Homo sapiens: one gene and its partners. The protein of the gene in region 1 purifies or fractionates together with the protein of each later gene. This does not show direct contact. Each region holds a gene or a part of one and is shown in the gene's direction. Other genes may lie near its edges.

What was found.
Region 2: the proteins of NLN (region 1) and ILKAP fractionate together in Homo sapiens (co-fractionation; one large-scale study listed by BioGRID). This does not show direct contact.
Region 3: the proteins of NLN (region 1) and TES fractionate together in Homo sapiens (co-fractionation; one large-scale study listed by BioGRID). This does not show direct contact.
Region 4: the proteins of NLN (region 1) and LEMD3 fractionate together in Homo sapiens (co-fractionation; one large-scale study listed by BioGRID). This does not show direct contact.

The regions. Positions count from the first base shown.
Region 1 is NC_000005.10:65,826,482-65,829,842, forward strand, and holds the end of NLN (neurolysin, mitochondrial), read left to right. Parts: 3' UTR 1-2,802; downstream 2,803-3,361. UniProt on the Homo sapiens protein: Hydrolyzes oligopeptides such as neurotensin, bradykinin and dynorphin A. Acts as a regulator of cannabinoid signaling pathway by mediating degradation of hemopressin, an antagonist peptide of the cannabinoid receptor CNR1.
Region 2 is NC_000002.12:238,179,636-238,183,206, reverse strand, and holds part of ILKAP (integrin-linked kinase-associated serine/threonine phosphatase 2C), read left to right. Parts: intron 1-1,020; coding exon 1,021-1,142; intron 1,143-3,571. UniProt on the Homo sapiens protein: Protein phosphatase that may play a role in regulation of cell cycle progression via dephosphorylation of its substrates whose appropriate phosphorylation states might be crucial for cell proliferation.
Region 3 is NC_000007.14:116,248,498-116,252,068, forward strand, and holds part of TES (testin), read left to right. Parts: intron 1-522; coding exon 523-775; intron 776-1,663; coding exon 1,664-1,999; intron 2,000-3,262; coding exon 3,263-3,478; intron 3,479-3,571. UniProt on the Homo sapiens protein: Scaffold protein that may play a role in cell adhesion, cell spreading and in the reorganization of the actin cytoskeleton. Plays a role in the regulation of cell proliferation. May act as a tumor suppressor. Inhibits tumor cell growth.
Region 4 is NC_000012.12:65,176,080-65,179,650, forward strand, and holds part of LEMD3 (inner nuclear membrane protein Man1), read left to right. Parts: intron 1-3,571.

The DNA.
Region 1 (3,361 bases):
TTTGAATAGATGCAGTGACCACAGCTTCTTCCCTCAAATCAACACATTACAGTTAGATGTCTCCCATCTGAAATTGGATAGCCCACTGAAATTGAACATGCCTTCTCTTATAAATGTGTGGTGAGAATAAAAGCAACAAAGAAATGAATGTGGTGGCTCACACCTGTAATCCTAACACTTTGGAAGGTTGAGGCAGGAGGATCCTTTGTGCTCAAGAGTTTGAGACCAGCCTGAGCAACACAGTGAGACCCTGTCTCTACAAAAACTAAAAAAATTAGCTAGGGATGGTGGCACATGCCTGTAGTCCCAGCTACTTGGGAGGCTGAGGTGGGAGGATTGCTTGAGCCCAAGAAGGTCAAGGCTGCCATGAGCCATAATCACGCCACTGCACTCCAGCCTGGGTGACAGAGACCCTGTCTTAAAATAAAATAAAAAAAAAAGGAAAAGGAAAGACATACATACCCTCAGTTCTTCGAAAAACAGTCAACGTCCAAAAAGTTTATTTTTTGAGTCACCTTTAATAGAGAAATTTCCCACTGGAAACAGATCCACCTAAGTGATTATCTAGTATCAGCTGTATCAAGGCAAAAGGTAAAGGTTATAAGATGTAAATATTAGACCAAAATAGCCTTTTTTAACAAACACAATAATGCTGTACGTCTGTAACAAAACAAAATTTGAAAAATTGAGGTAATGTACACAGCGATGCACACACCCCCACACCACACCGTGATTCCTGAGTTTTGATTTGGTTGAATTCACCTTGTAGTTCCCTTTCCTGAGAAAATACAGGTTCAACACATCTAGTCCACGATGTACGTACAAGGGGAAGGGGTGAACAGGAAATAGACTCCCTTATTCTGCTCACATGAGCTGGAACCTGTACTAGCTGCATATTTCATAGACCCCAGAGGCTCACCTCAATTGTACTCCTATGATAAAATGTCTCTAGCATTTGTCATGAGAGAAACTGGCTAGAAATAGTTTGTTCATTGCGTCCAGCAAGACACGCATTGCTGTTGATATCTTTGTGGCTAAGATGGAGAATGTGACTGGATAATAGTTATCCAGGTGGATTACTAGCTATTGAAACAGTCTGAGATAGTTGCATGATGATTAACGTTAAACTGGGAGTAATTTCAAGTCATTTGGCTAAAAATGAAAAAAAAGTCCCATAAAAAGGTATCAAATGTACAGATAATAGGGCTGGAATTATTAAGTATGATGATGTTATTAACATCTAAAATTATTTTGGCCGGGCAAGGTGGGTCACGCCTGTAATCTCAGCACTTTGGGATGCCAAGATGGGTGGATCACCTGAGTTCAGGAGTTCAAGACCAGCTTGGCCAACATGGCGAAACCCGTCTCTACTAAAGAATACAAAAATTAGCCAGGTGTTGTGGCACATGCCTGTACTCCCAGCTACTCAGGAGGCTGAGGCAGAAGAATCATTTGAACCCCGGAGGTGGAGGTTGCAGTGAGCCGACATTGTGCCGCTTCATTCCAGCCTGGGCAACAGAGTGAAACTCTTGTCTCAAAAGTAAAAAAATAATAATGTTTAAAAATATTTCAATGTGGAGACAAGCTCAAAATGAAATTAGACACATTCCATTACCCAGGTAAAAGAAGGGGAAGCCTGACTTGATAGTAGTATTCAGGAAAAAAGAGTTGGCAGTTTTATTTGGCCAAATTCCAATATCAGCTCATGGTACAGCACACCGGGGGAGGGGGACGGGAGGCGAGAACTAAGGCTTTTTAAGAATGTGTTGATGGAAGTATGTGCCTAGATCAAAAGAATAATCCCCCCGGACTCCAGTGTAAGATCAATTACTGTTGGAATATTGTGTTCCTTTCTAGATATCACATTTTAAGCAGACTTTGGCCAAGTAGTACAGTGTTTGCAGGAGCAGTAACAAGATGGTGATAACTTTGAAAATACTTCTCAAAAGAAAAATAAAAAAGAATTAGGGAAGTTCAGTCTGGAGATAATTCAGAAATACAGATGATAATTGTTTTCAAATTCTTGAAGGAAATGGGAGAGAGAATAGGCTAATTCTGTATTGCTTCAGAAACCAAATGGAAACAATTAAATTCCATTAGAGAAACGGTTGGAAAATATGAGGAGGATTTAGTTCAGTACGAGGAAGCTGTTTCTAATACTTTTTGTTGGTTAAAAATACATTCCGCTGCTGTGGAAAGCCTGTAGCTGCCAGGAGTGTTACAGAGGGCATTCCTCCCTTGAGTTGACATTTGTGCCAAACCGGCTTTTAGGGCTTCTCCAGCTTTTAAGATGCGATAATGATAAGATGATCATCGGGAAAACATCCCTCAGATGAAACGTTCACAGGCTGGCTCTGAAAACTGGCATTCAGATGATTGCGGCTCCCCCATACTGTAGGAATATTGTTTATGGCTTAAGGTTGCCTCGCTCCTCATCTGTAATCAGTGAAAGTTTATCCAGAGGTTAATTACCGGTTTTCTGGTGGGTATCTGGGAACTGAGGATGGGAGATTAACTGTTGTATATGACCATAGTAAAGCAAAAGACTGTTAGAGAATGAGTAAACGTTCGTTTTCCTCCCTACAGAATTTACAGTTACTCTCTGTCCATTCCACTCACTACTGTCTTCATCACACACACAGAGGCAAACGTCTGATTCAGATAGCCAGGTGTGCCATGCATGCACTCCACCATATTGTGATCTCTTCGAGGCTTGTTTCTGTCCCCTGTCCTCCACAGTCCTGGATTGTTAATGAATAGTTCATACATGTTTGTTAAATAAATATACCTTCTTTAAAATTATCTTTTGTTATAAAGATGCCTTTTTCTATGGTAACTGCAAAATACCTAATTTGTAACTAAACCTAAAACTATGTGGATAAGTTATTTCTACACCTGCGGGGGGCAGATTTCTACATGAGAGTCCTTTCTTAGTGTACTGAGAGTTTCTGCATGAGGTAAATGAAAGAAACATGTTTTTTGTAAAAAAAAAAAAAAAGAAAAGAAAAAAATTGGCAATGGAGAACGTTTCTAAAGCTTCTCAGCTTCTCCCTATGATTATGTATTGAAACCTCGGAATTTGTTCATCTGGTTTTCTTGGGGGGTCTATGAAAAGGGCAGAGCAAGCAGATGTCCCATGATTGCCCTGAAATTATATTAGATATGTTCGTGTGCATGGATACCTGCATTTTTCTAGGGATAGAGTCCTTAGCTTTAATCAGAAGAAATTAAGAACTACTGTCTTTAAAAATGTGCTTTCAAACATTTGTTTTTTGAATTCATTTCAAAGACTCTAACGTGCCCATTATGTGTCAGGCGCTGTGCTTGGCAATGAGGATACAAAAAGACACCCCAGAACTGG
Region 2 (3,571 bases), on another chromosome or scaffold:
ATGAGGTGCCATTCATCACCCGAGCCCGGTCCCTGGCTGAGGGAGAAAGCCCAGGGTGTTGTTCCCCCTGGTGACAGTCGTGGGGATGCTGTAAAGCCTAGAGGGTGCTGCTGCGGAAAGCTGGATGCAGACCCTGCCTCCTCTGCATCAGGACCATGTGTTCCGTTCCGTTGCCGCTTTTTCACCCGGCCTCCTTGCTCCCTAGGCAGTCACAGGAATCAAGTGACTGTCCACACTTAAGCAGCATCTTTAGACCCCTCCCCACGATGCTTCTGGGGGGATGATTCATCAAATACTAAGTGCTAGGGGTATGGCAGAGACTATAACAGATGACAGCCCCTGCCTGGTGGAGTTTACATTCTGGTGGCCCTTTAGTAGACTGGCCTTAGCCCACATGTGTTTAGACCACATGACTTCAGAAATAGCAAGAGGAAAATTGGCAAAAAAACAAAGACAGGAGTCAGACCCAAATTTGAATCCTGGCTCTGCTCTGTGACTTTATTGAGTTACTTATTCTTCGTGCCTCAGTGTCTTCCTGTAAAACAGACACAATGAACCTGGCAGGGGCGAGAACACCTGGAGGCACTGGTGTGGACGGCCTACCTGGCACTCGGCCAGCATGCACAACGCTTGCCCTCCTCTTTGCCTTCCATAGGCTCATGGACATGTCTCTGGCCTTCTAGACTCCAGGCCAAAAGGGACCTTGATACTTGTTGAGTGCTTCCTTTCATGTCACAAATGTGACAACAGCCAGAGTGAGCACTTGTCTGTAGTTATTCAGCAGAGTTTGTACCAGAGTTGATATCAAAACCAGGGGCGACTCTCTCCCTAACTGTTGTGTCTTTGACACTTCTTTGCTGCTTGATTCTCTGAACTTACGTTTATCAGCAGGAGGCTGAATGTGAAACTCCATTGTTAACTGTTTTCTTCAAACTCCATTGTTAACTGTTTTTTTCAACTGGTACCTTTAGATGCTGCGCCCACTGAATTTCATGACTATTACAATCTCCATCTTCCCAGGCAATCTTGTGTCGTTATAATGAGGAGAGTCAAAAACATGCAGCCTTAAGCCTCAGCAAAGAGCATAATCCAACTCAGTATGAAGAGCGGATGAGGATACAGAAGGCTGGAGGAAACGTCAGGTAACCAAGGGACTGAGAGGAGCTCATGGGAAGGAGGGCTGTTAGCTGTAGAAGGGTCCCGAGACCTTCAAGGAGTAGAACTTCCCCTGTTACGTAGTCTTCAGTGTGACGAGGCTCTGTCTGAGATCTAACACTGGTGACATAGGTGGATGACAGTTGTAGATTTCACATGTGTCCACGTGGAAGGAAACTTGCCTCCCTACATTTGCAAAAGGACAAATTCATATTTACCATTCACAGTGTTTTCTCTGTGCCTAGGAAGTTTCTTAAATACTGTCACTTTTCGTGGTGGCGGGCGCCTGTAGTCCCAGCTACTCGGGAGGCTGAGGCAGGAGAATGGCGTGAACCTGGGAGGCGGAGCTTGCAGTGAGCCAAGATCGCACCACTGCACTCCAGCCTGGGCAACAGAGCGAGACTCCATCTCAAAAAAAAAAAAAAACCAAAAAAAAAACCTGTCACTTTTCACATTGAATAAGTTACAGTTTTAGGTGAATTCTCCAGAGAGAAAATCTGAAGTAGTTAAGACGGGTTAAGTAATGTCTTTGGACTTCTTGGGAACAACTGGCACAGAGGACCATGTCTTACTTGGCTCTGTCTTTTGCAGTTTCATTTCACTCTCTCTTTAAATCTTTGAAAACCATATGTCTGCTCTGGTTTTATTATCTGCTTCTATCCAAGGCAGCTAAAGGAGGGCATAAGTCTTTTCTTTAGAATTCCACTTCAAGGACATTGCATTATGAATTAGACCAGGAGTATTTTCTGGTTTGTTGTACAGTTTGACTATTAAAATTTTATTTTCTGCCAGAGATAAGAGAGATGTCATCTCTTAGTATAAGACTGCACTTACCTATCCTTTGAAGTGTAGTTTCTCTTCTGTTGTTCATTTGGGGAAGCCTTTTTTATTGCTCCAGGCTGAATCTAGTCAGTGGTACAGGGAGGTTTCTGGAGAGTAGTTGGAACCCTTAGCGTTTGTTCAAAAAGCTCTTGGATTAGTAAGAAGCAGTTTCATTCACGGTCGCTGCAGTTTACATGAGCAGTGATGGGATTATAGGCCTGGTTTCAGGCCTCAAGCAGTGCTGTTGGCCCAGTTTTTGCCACCGTAACTACTGTCCTGGTAACTACTGTGGACAGTCATGCCTGAGAATGTGACTCTAACATGAGCGTAAGCATCACCTCTTCTCCCCTTTCTTGTAAGTTTTACATTCATTCTGCTTTTGCCTGAACTCCTTGAAAATAATTGGATACTGACAGTCCGATGGCTGAAAGTAAGGCCAGTTGTGTTGCAGTTGCTTCCTATATCCCAGTCCTTACCTGATTCAGAGAAGTGTTTACATGCCTTAGAGAAATCATTTGACAGTGTGGGTTTTGGGTGACTCCTTCATCTCAGAGAAGGGCTGAGGCTAAGAGACCAGCAGCGTGGGTCGCTGCCCCTGAGCAGCAGAGCCCTGTCGTGGTCTGTTCTCCTGCCTGAGGCCAGGGCTGGCTGCCCCACTCTCAGCTTTTATCATTAAATTTTTCAGACATACAGAAGAAACTTGACAATAGTAAAACATTTCCAAATCTACTAGCAGTGAACATTGTGTCATGTTTAGTCTGTATAGATGTGTGTCAGGCTGAGCTGTTTAAAAGTTGCAGATATGATGACATAACAGCCTAAATACTTAAGCATGCATCTCCTGAAGATAAGGACGTTCTTGACATAATTAGTGAGAATTTTCACACCTAAGACAATAATATTTCCTTAGGTTAAGTTATCTAATACCCTGTCTATATTTTTATTTCCCGAGTTATCCCCAAAGTATCTTTGTTTCAAACCAGGGTCTAGTCAGCATCCATGTCTGCCGTGGACTTGGCATTTCTTTTTCTTTTTCTTTTTCTTTCTTTCTTTTTTTTTTTTGAGAGAGAGAATCTTGATCTGTTGCCTGGAGTGCAGTGGCACGATCACAGCTCACCGCAGCCTTGACCTCTGAGGTTGAAGCGATCCTCCAGCCTCAGCCTCCCAAGTAGCTGGGACCACAGGCATGTGCCACTGTGCCTGGCTATTTTTTTATTTTTTGGTAGAGACAGGGTCTCTGTCTGTGTTTTCCAGGCTGAGCTAAGTGATCCTTCTGCCTTGGCCTCCCAGAGTGCAGGGAATACAGGTGTGAGCCACTGCACCCTGCCGAGACTCATTTCTTACCAGGCTTTGAACCATGTTATAGGCCAGCAGTTGTACAGAGTCACCAATATTCTGAACCTGCGTATTTTTTTACGGTGTTATTTCTGTATATTTCCTATAAACTGGAAGTTAGGTGTAAGACCTTCTTTAGATTCAGATGAGATGTTTTTAGCAATGTTTTATGGGGGATGCTGTATACTCAGTAGTCCTTCACTTCAGTAGGCACATAATGTGACCCTTAATTAAGTTGCCAAATCCCAGCACTTGGCTC
Region 3 (3,571 bases), on another chromosome or scaffold:
GCATCTCATCATCGTTTTGATTTGCATTCCTTAATGATTAGTGATATTGAGCATGTTTTCATATATTTTTTGGCCATATGTATATCTTCTTTTGAGAAATATCTGTTCATGTCCTTTGCCCATTTTTTAATGGGGTTGTCTTTTGCTTGTTGAATTGTTCCTTATAGATTCTGAATATTAGACCTTTGTCAGTTGCAGGATTTGCAAATATTTTCTTCCATTCTATAGGTTGTCTGTTTGTCCTGTTGCCAGTTTCTTTTGCTTTGTAGAAGCTCTTCAGTTTAATTGGGTCCCTCTTTCAATTTTTACAACCTAGCTTTTAAAAGCCTTATCAAGCAAAGTCGTGTTTTGTTTCCTTCTTGCTTAAATATATGGATACTTATTCTCCCTCCTAAAAAAGGACTTGCCTTTGCATACCATGATATAGAATAGGCCTAAAAGTATTTTATGAACTATAAATGTATGAACATAAATATCAATTAGGTACAATTAATCATTTTCTACTTATTTTCAAAATTATAGAAAAATATGTCGTAACTGCAAGTGTGGCCAAGAAGAGCATGATGTCCTCTTGAGCAATGAAGAGGATCGAAAAGTGGGAAAACTTTTTGAAGACACCAAGTATACCACTCTGATTGCAAAACTAAAGTCAGATGGAATTCCCATGTATAAACGCAATGTTATGATATTGACGAATCCAGTTGCTGCCAAGAAGAATGTCTCCATCAATACAGTTACCTATGAGTGGGCTCCTCCTGTCCAGAATCAAGCATTGGTAAATGATATGGAACAGAGAGTTTCTTTATTGAAGTTCCTGGAGTATTTATTTGGGGCAGTTTCTTTGATGACCTAATCAACTTCACACATCCCAGATCTGTTATTCTTCCGGGGTTCTCATTACTTTGACTTCTGATTCCTGTTCTAGTCTTTTGAATGTAAGACTAGATACTTCATAAAATTTTTCCAACTCCCTAGATATGTTTACCTTTTTGAGGGAATGGTCTAACGTTCTTAATAATTAGATGGAAATCAGATGTTTTATATCAATCTAGTAACTCTTCTAGCTTAGTCTTGAGAGGATTTATCTTAAGATGGTAAAGAAGAGAATTTTTGTCATAGTTTAGAACTGAAAAAAATATTCAACATTATCTTTGTGTTTTTTTCATTTCCTTTATTAATACTATATAAGACCAAAAAGATCACAGTTTTATATCAAGCTCCTTCCACTATTATAACAACCAAATGAAACATTTGGAAGTCTTTTAAGGTTAGTTAAATCATTAAAGTGAATTTTGCGATATCATTTTTTATGTAATAAAAATGTTCCTGGTCCTACAGACCATTCCAAACATGTCTGCCTAAAAGTTTATGTTTTCTTTCAATTGTACATTTGTTTATTTAGCTTAAGTAAACAGTAGTAACTCAGATCTTACAAACTGAAAAAATATATAATTTCATGGAGAGAAAGTGTTACTTTTTACCCAACTAAATCTATTTAGTGTACCGTTTTTGAGTTTTAACTTCTTAATATACTGTGAGGGTGAGTTGCTGCTATTGGATAGAACCCACTTCTTTCTTAAGTAACTTGCTTCTGATGTGTGTTATGAAACATCACACTGCCTAATGGCCAATCCCAGTTAACATTGGCCTCCTTGTGGTTCAGGCCAGGCAGTACATGCAGATGCTACCCAAGGAAAAGCAGCCAGTAGCAGGCTCAGAGGGGGCACAGTACCGGAAGAAGCAGCTGGCAAAGCAGCTCCCTGCACATGACCAGGACCCTTCAAAGTGCCATGAGTTGTCTCCCAGAGAGGTGAAGGAGATGGAGCAGTTTGTGAAGAAATATAAGAGCGAAGCTCTGGGAGTAGGAGATGTCAAACTTCCCTGTGAGATGGATGCCCAAGGCCCCAAACAAATGAACATTCCTGGAGGGGATAGAAGCACCCCAGCAGCAGTGGGGGCCATGGAGGACAAATCTGCTGAGCACAAAAGAACTCAATATGTAAGTAGAGTGGTCACACTGTTAGCCTGATTTGTATACTTTACAGAATTTTTTTCCCTTACTTTGAACTTTTTTGGGGACTATTCCTCTGAGTTTCCAAAAGGGAATAAGTATGGGGAATAAATAGGATTTAGATTCAGTTTAGACTTCCCACAGAGGGTCATCGTGTTTGAAACTTCTGTCTAAAGCCAAATTTTCTATGTATTTATTATCAAGGATAATTGTGGATAGTGAGTTTTATGTACAGACAGTAGTTGGTATTGGCATGCTGATCAAAGACAGCATTATTATTCTATAGTCTGTTTCTAATCATAATGTTGGTATTAATTGCTTATCTCTGCTGCCCATAAATAGGAATATATGCTTAGGTTAATTCAGTTTTGCTTGTGAGAACGTGCCTAAAATTCAAACTTAAATTTAATTTTTGTGGATATATAGTGAAGCTTTTTTTTAAGTCTCTTCTAAAGGGAGAAATTGAAGTATTTTGCTAATGACTTGATGGTAGGAGGCAATTATGACACAGATGAACAGACATAAGAACTAAACCTGCTGTAATATATTCCTCATAGCTCCAGTTAGCACACCAACCAATAAGGCTTAGTCCTGAAAAAAGAGCACTAATAAGCCCTGAGGTGATAGTTTTAGAGAATCTACTTAAAATTGACCTGAAAATTACTATTTTCCTTTTTCCATAAGTGACCTTAATTCAGGAAATAATGCCTGTTACACACAGGGTGAATGAAGTAGATTTGAATAGCCGGGAGAAAGCTGAGATTCCATTTCACAGAATTATTAATACGTTATTATCTACATCGACAAATTTGTAATTTCAGTAGAAATTATGTCTCTTCAAAGTTGTTTCTCTGAATTTCTACTGAAGTCAATGATAAGAAATGGCAGTCTTAGCTGGGCACAGTGGCTCACGCCTGTAATCCCAGCACTTTGGGAGGCTGAGGCGGGTGAATCACGAGGTCAGGAGATTGAGACCATCCTGGCTAACACGGTGAAACCCCGTCTCTACTAAAAATACAAAAAAATTAGCCGGGCGTGGTGGCAGGCGCCTGTAGTCCCAGCTACTCGGGAGGCTGAGGCAGGAGAACGGCGTGAACCCAGGAGGCGGAGCTTGCAATGAGCCGAGATAGCACCACTGGACTCCAGCCTGGGCGACAGAGTGAGACTCAGTCTCAAAAAAAAAAAAAGAAAGAAAGAAAAGAAATGGCAGTCTTCTAATGACTAGGTTGTTCTGGATGGCTTCCCTTTCAGTCCTGCTATTGCTGCAAACTGAGTATGAAAGAAGGTGACCCAGCCATCTATGCCGAAAGGGCTGGCTATGATAAACTGTGGCACCCAGCTTGTTTTGTCTGCAGCACCTGCCATGAACTCCTGGTTGACATGATTTATTTTTGGAAGAATGAGAAGCTATACTGTGGCAGACATTACTGTGACAGCGAGAAACCCCGATGTGCTGGCTGTGACGAGGTATGTTCTATGGGACCACCGGCATGCTGGTGCCCTCTTAGACCCTCATATGGTCCCTTTACCTAGAAGGCAACAAGACTTGACCAAACAGCA
Region 4 (3,571 bases), on another chromosome or scaffold:
CTCTTTCAGTAACCTAAAATGGTGTCCCTGCTTCTAGGCTGTAGCTCTTCCAGTCCATTTGTCAGTACAGAGCAGCGTTTCTAAAGCACAAATGTGATCATTCCCTCTTGCTTAAAATTACACAATGGCTTTCTCTTAGTTATTGGCCAAAATCTAAACTCGTTGGCTAAACTGTTCATGATCTGACTATGCTTGCCCTTTCTACCAGTCTCCCTTATCACACTTACTTTCTAGAAAACTGAACTGTTTGCTGTTTTCTGAGTAAGTCATGAAATTTGTGCTTTTCTACCTTTGCACAGGTTATCCCCTTTTTTGGGAATGTTTCTTTATTTTGTAACTGTGATTCATTCTTAAACATGTCATCTCCAGATATCTCTGACTCTCCATCTTTTTACCCTAGAGTTTGGCCCATCATTTTGTGCTCAAATAAGACATTAATTGCATCCTTCATAGTATTTAGGACAAAGTATTATATTTGTGTGTCCACCATGCCAAATAGATGACAGCTCCTTTCTTTAGAGTAATATTTCTATAGGAGTAGAATACAGTGTTAAAGAGTACAAACTTTTTACTCAGTTCTGATTTTGGCTCTACTTTTTAAAGTAGACTATACTAGAGATATAATTGCCTCATACTAAAAATGAGATTGATAATACTATCTGAGGATGACTTGTATTAAGTGAGATAATGCATCTAAACTAGTGTTGTCTGGCACATGGAAATCTCTTAGTAGATGGAAGTCACATTAGTATCTTCAGCACAGATTCATTATTCAGCAAATATCTGTTGAATAAATGATCACATATCAGGTACTCAGGATATATGCACTGTTAACTGGTAGTATCTAACTCGGTAATTGGTTATCTACTTAGTATCTGGTAAGGATATATAAAAGAAATCTTATTTCTGTAGAAGCCTCCACACCACTAATAACAGTAATAGGAAATGGCTAAGAAACATACAGGATATTATGTGGTTACACACTTTTATAAAAGGGGAGAATTCACTGTAAATTCTCAAATGATCAGTCTTACATGATCAAAAGTTCTAAATTCAACATTTGGATTTTATTCTGTAGGTTGAGTAATGGCAATTCATGGAGGTTATAAAGCAGAGGACAAGCATGATCGAATTGGTCCTTTAAGAAGGATAAACAGGTGATGGTTTAGACAGTGATAGGGTTGGAGGGAAGGAGTAGGGTGATGACACCTGAAGGAGGTGGATAAGTGGGAATGGAGTTGGGCCTATGAATGAAATTCATTTGAAGAAAGACATATGGTTTTGAGTATAGAGAATAAGAGACAGATAGGAGTCAAAGATTATTCTGGCCATGAGCCTGGATGACTGAGAGAATGATAATATCATTGGAGGAATTAGAGATGTGGAAGAGGGATCTTGTTTGGGGAAAAGTGGTCTAGGGAAAATGAGTTTACTTGGGGCTTATTATTTGAGTTGTTCAAGTGAAAAATTCTTGTAGGCTCTTGTAGATACAGAATTGGAGTAAAGATGAGAGACTGGTGCTGAATGTGAGTACTAGTACTGTTTACTAAGGGAATACTTTTAAATGTTTGTTTTTTTAATGTGTTGTTGTTTTCTTTAAAATCAAGACCAGTTGTTACAAAGAAGTAACATGTTTTAATGTCATTGTCGTTTAAAAAATATTTTTACTTCTTAAAGTAGACTAGCCAAAAGGTCCCGAACTTGGTATCTAAAATGAATATGGGGAATAAGGATTTTGAAAAATAGCTGTTGCTCTCATTCTTTTTTTTTTTTTTTCAATATGAGACAGGGTCTTGCTGTGTCACCCAGGTTGGATTGCAGTGGTGTGATCATGGCTTACTGCAGCCTCAACCTCCCAGGACTCAAGCAATCCTCACAGCTCAGCCTCCTGAGTAGCTGGGACTATAGATCTGCATCACCACATCTGGCAAATTTTTTGTATTTTTTGTTGAGACAGGATCTCACTTTGTTGTCCAGGCTGGTCTTGAACTCCTGGGCTCAAGCGATCCTGTCACCTTCGCCTCCCAAAGTGCTGAGATTACAGGTGTCAGCCATAGCAGCCGGCCTATTCTCTCATTCTTGAAGAATGAAAGCTCCATGTTATGTTTGAAGTTTTACGAGTTGACTGCTTTGTAAGAAAAAAAAAAAAATCCTAGATCTATGAGAATATTCCCGTGAATGCCAGGGATTTGCATATACCAGTTTGATGATTTCAGAAATTAAAGTCTACTCTATGAAAATGTTTTTCATTTGAAAATTTTCCCTAGAATGATTTAAATTAAAAATAATGAGGAAAAACTTGTGAATCTCTACAGATATATCCACGGAGACTAGTTTGAGGATACACTGGCATAGCTATCAGAGAACCTGGGCTTCAATATTGGCCCTTCCACTTACTAGCTTTTTTTCACTAAGGCAAGTTGCTTAGCCATTGTAAACCTCAATATCCTCATATGAAAAATAGGTTAAATGAGAATGAAGTAATGTGTGTAAAGTAAAACTCATACATGGCACATAGTAATAATAATAACTAACCCTTACGTAGCATTAACTGTGTTCCAGGCACTGAGCTAAACAATTATTATTTAATCCTTATGAGGTAGGTACTTATCCCATTTTATAAGTAAATGGAGACACTGAGAAGTAACTCGCCCAGGGTCATGTAGCTAGTAAGTGAAGCGGCAGTATTTGAACTCAGACAGTGGCTCTTAACTGTTCTTCTAGATTGCCTTTTAATATGTATAAATAAGGACTTGATATATGTTCTCTACTATTATTGTCTTTATTTTCAGAAAACTGTGACAAGTATAGATTCATAAAATCCTAGAAGTGGCAGGAATAATCTATGAAACCTAACAACTTTAGGAAAAGTTGTATTCATTCAACAATTATGAATCACATGGAACTATTTATCCTTAAGGTTTTAGATTAATTAAGGGGGAGGGGGCATCTGCTATGAAGCAAACTATAATATATAATACATAGAACAATAATACAATATTAAAACTATTTCTAATTTTTAAAATATTTGCAGTCTCAAAACTGGTAGGGAAAGTGATCTTTTGATTTGTATTACCAATTACAACTTGTTCTTTCTGTTGTTCATTTTTAGGATATAAAGAACTTTTCATACATTTGATCTCCCTTTTTTGCTCCTTTTGAATAAACTTCATATTTTCCCTTTATACTCATATATGTTTTAATGGAAATGATGCATTTGATAATTTCAGGGACACTAAAATAATCATGAAAAATTATTTTCATGATTCCTAAGAGTTGGGAAGTTCTTAAAGCTTGCTTCTCCTTGCTCATTGATTATTCAATATTAACTTTCCCTATCTGAAAAATATGTTATATAAATGGAAATTTATAGCCTCAGTGCAAAGATAATTATATAGTTTGTAAGTTGTTTAAAAGAGAAGGACACCTTAAACTGTTGGAACTCTCCAAAATGTATTTGTTAATAAATAAGTACTACTAACTTGTTTGTGAAAATTTTATTACTAATGATATAATCTAAATTCGAATGAAGATATATTCTAGGGGTGGGGAGAATATCAGGAAAAATAGC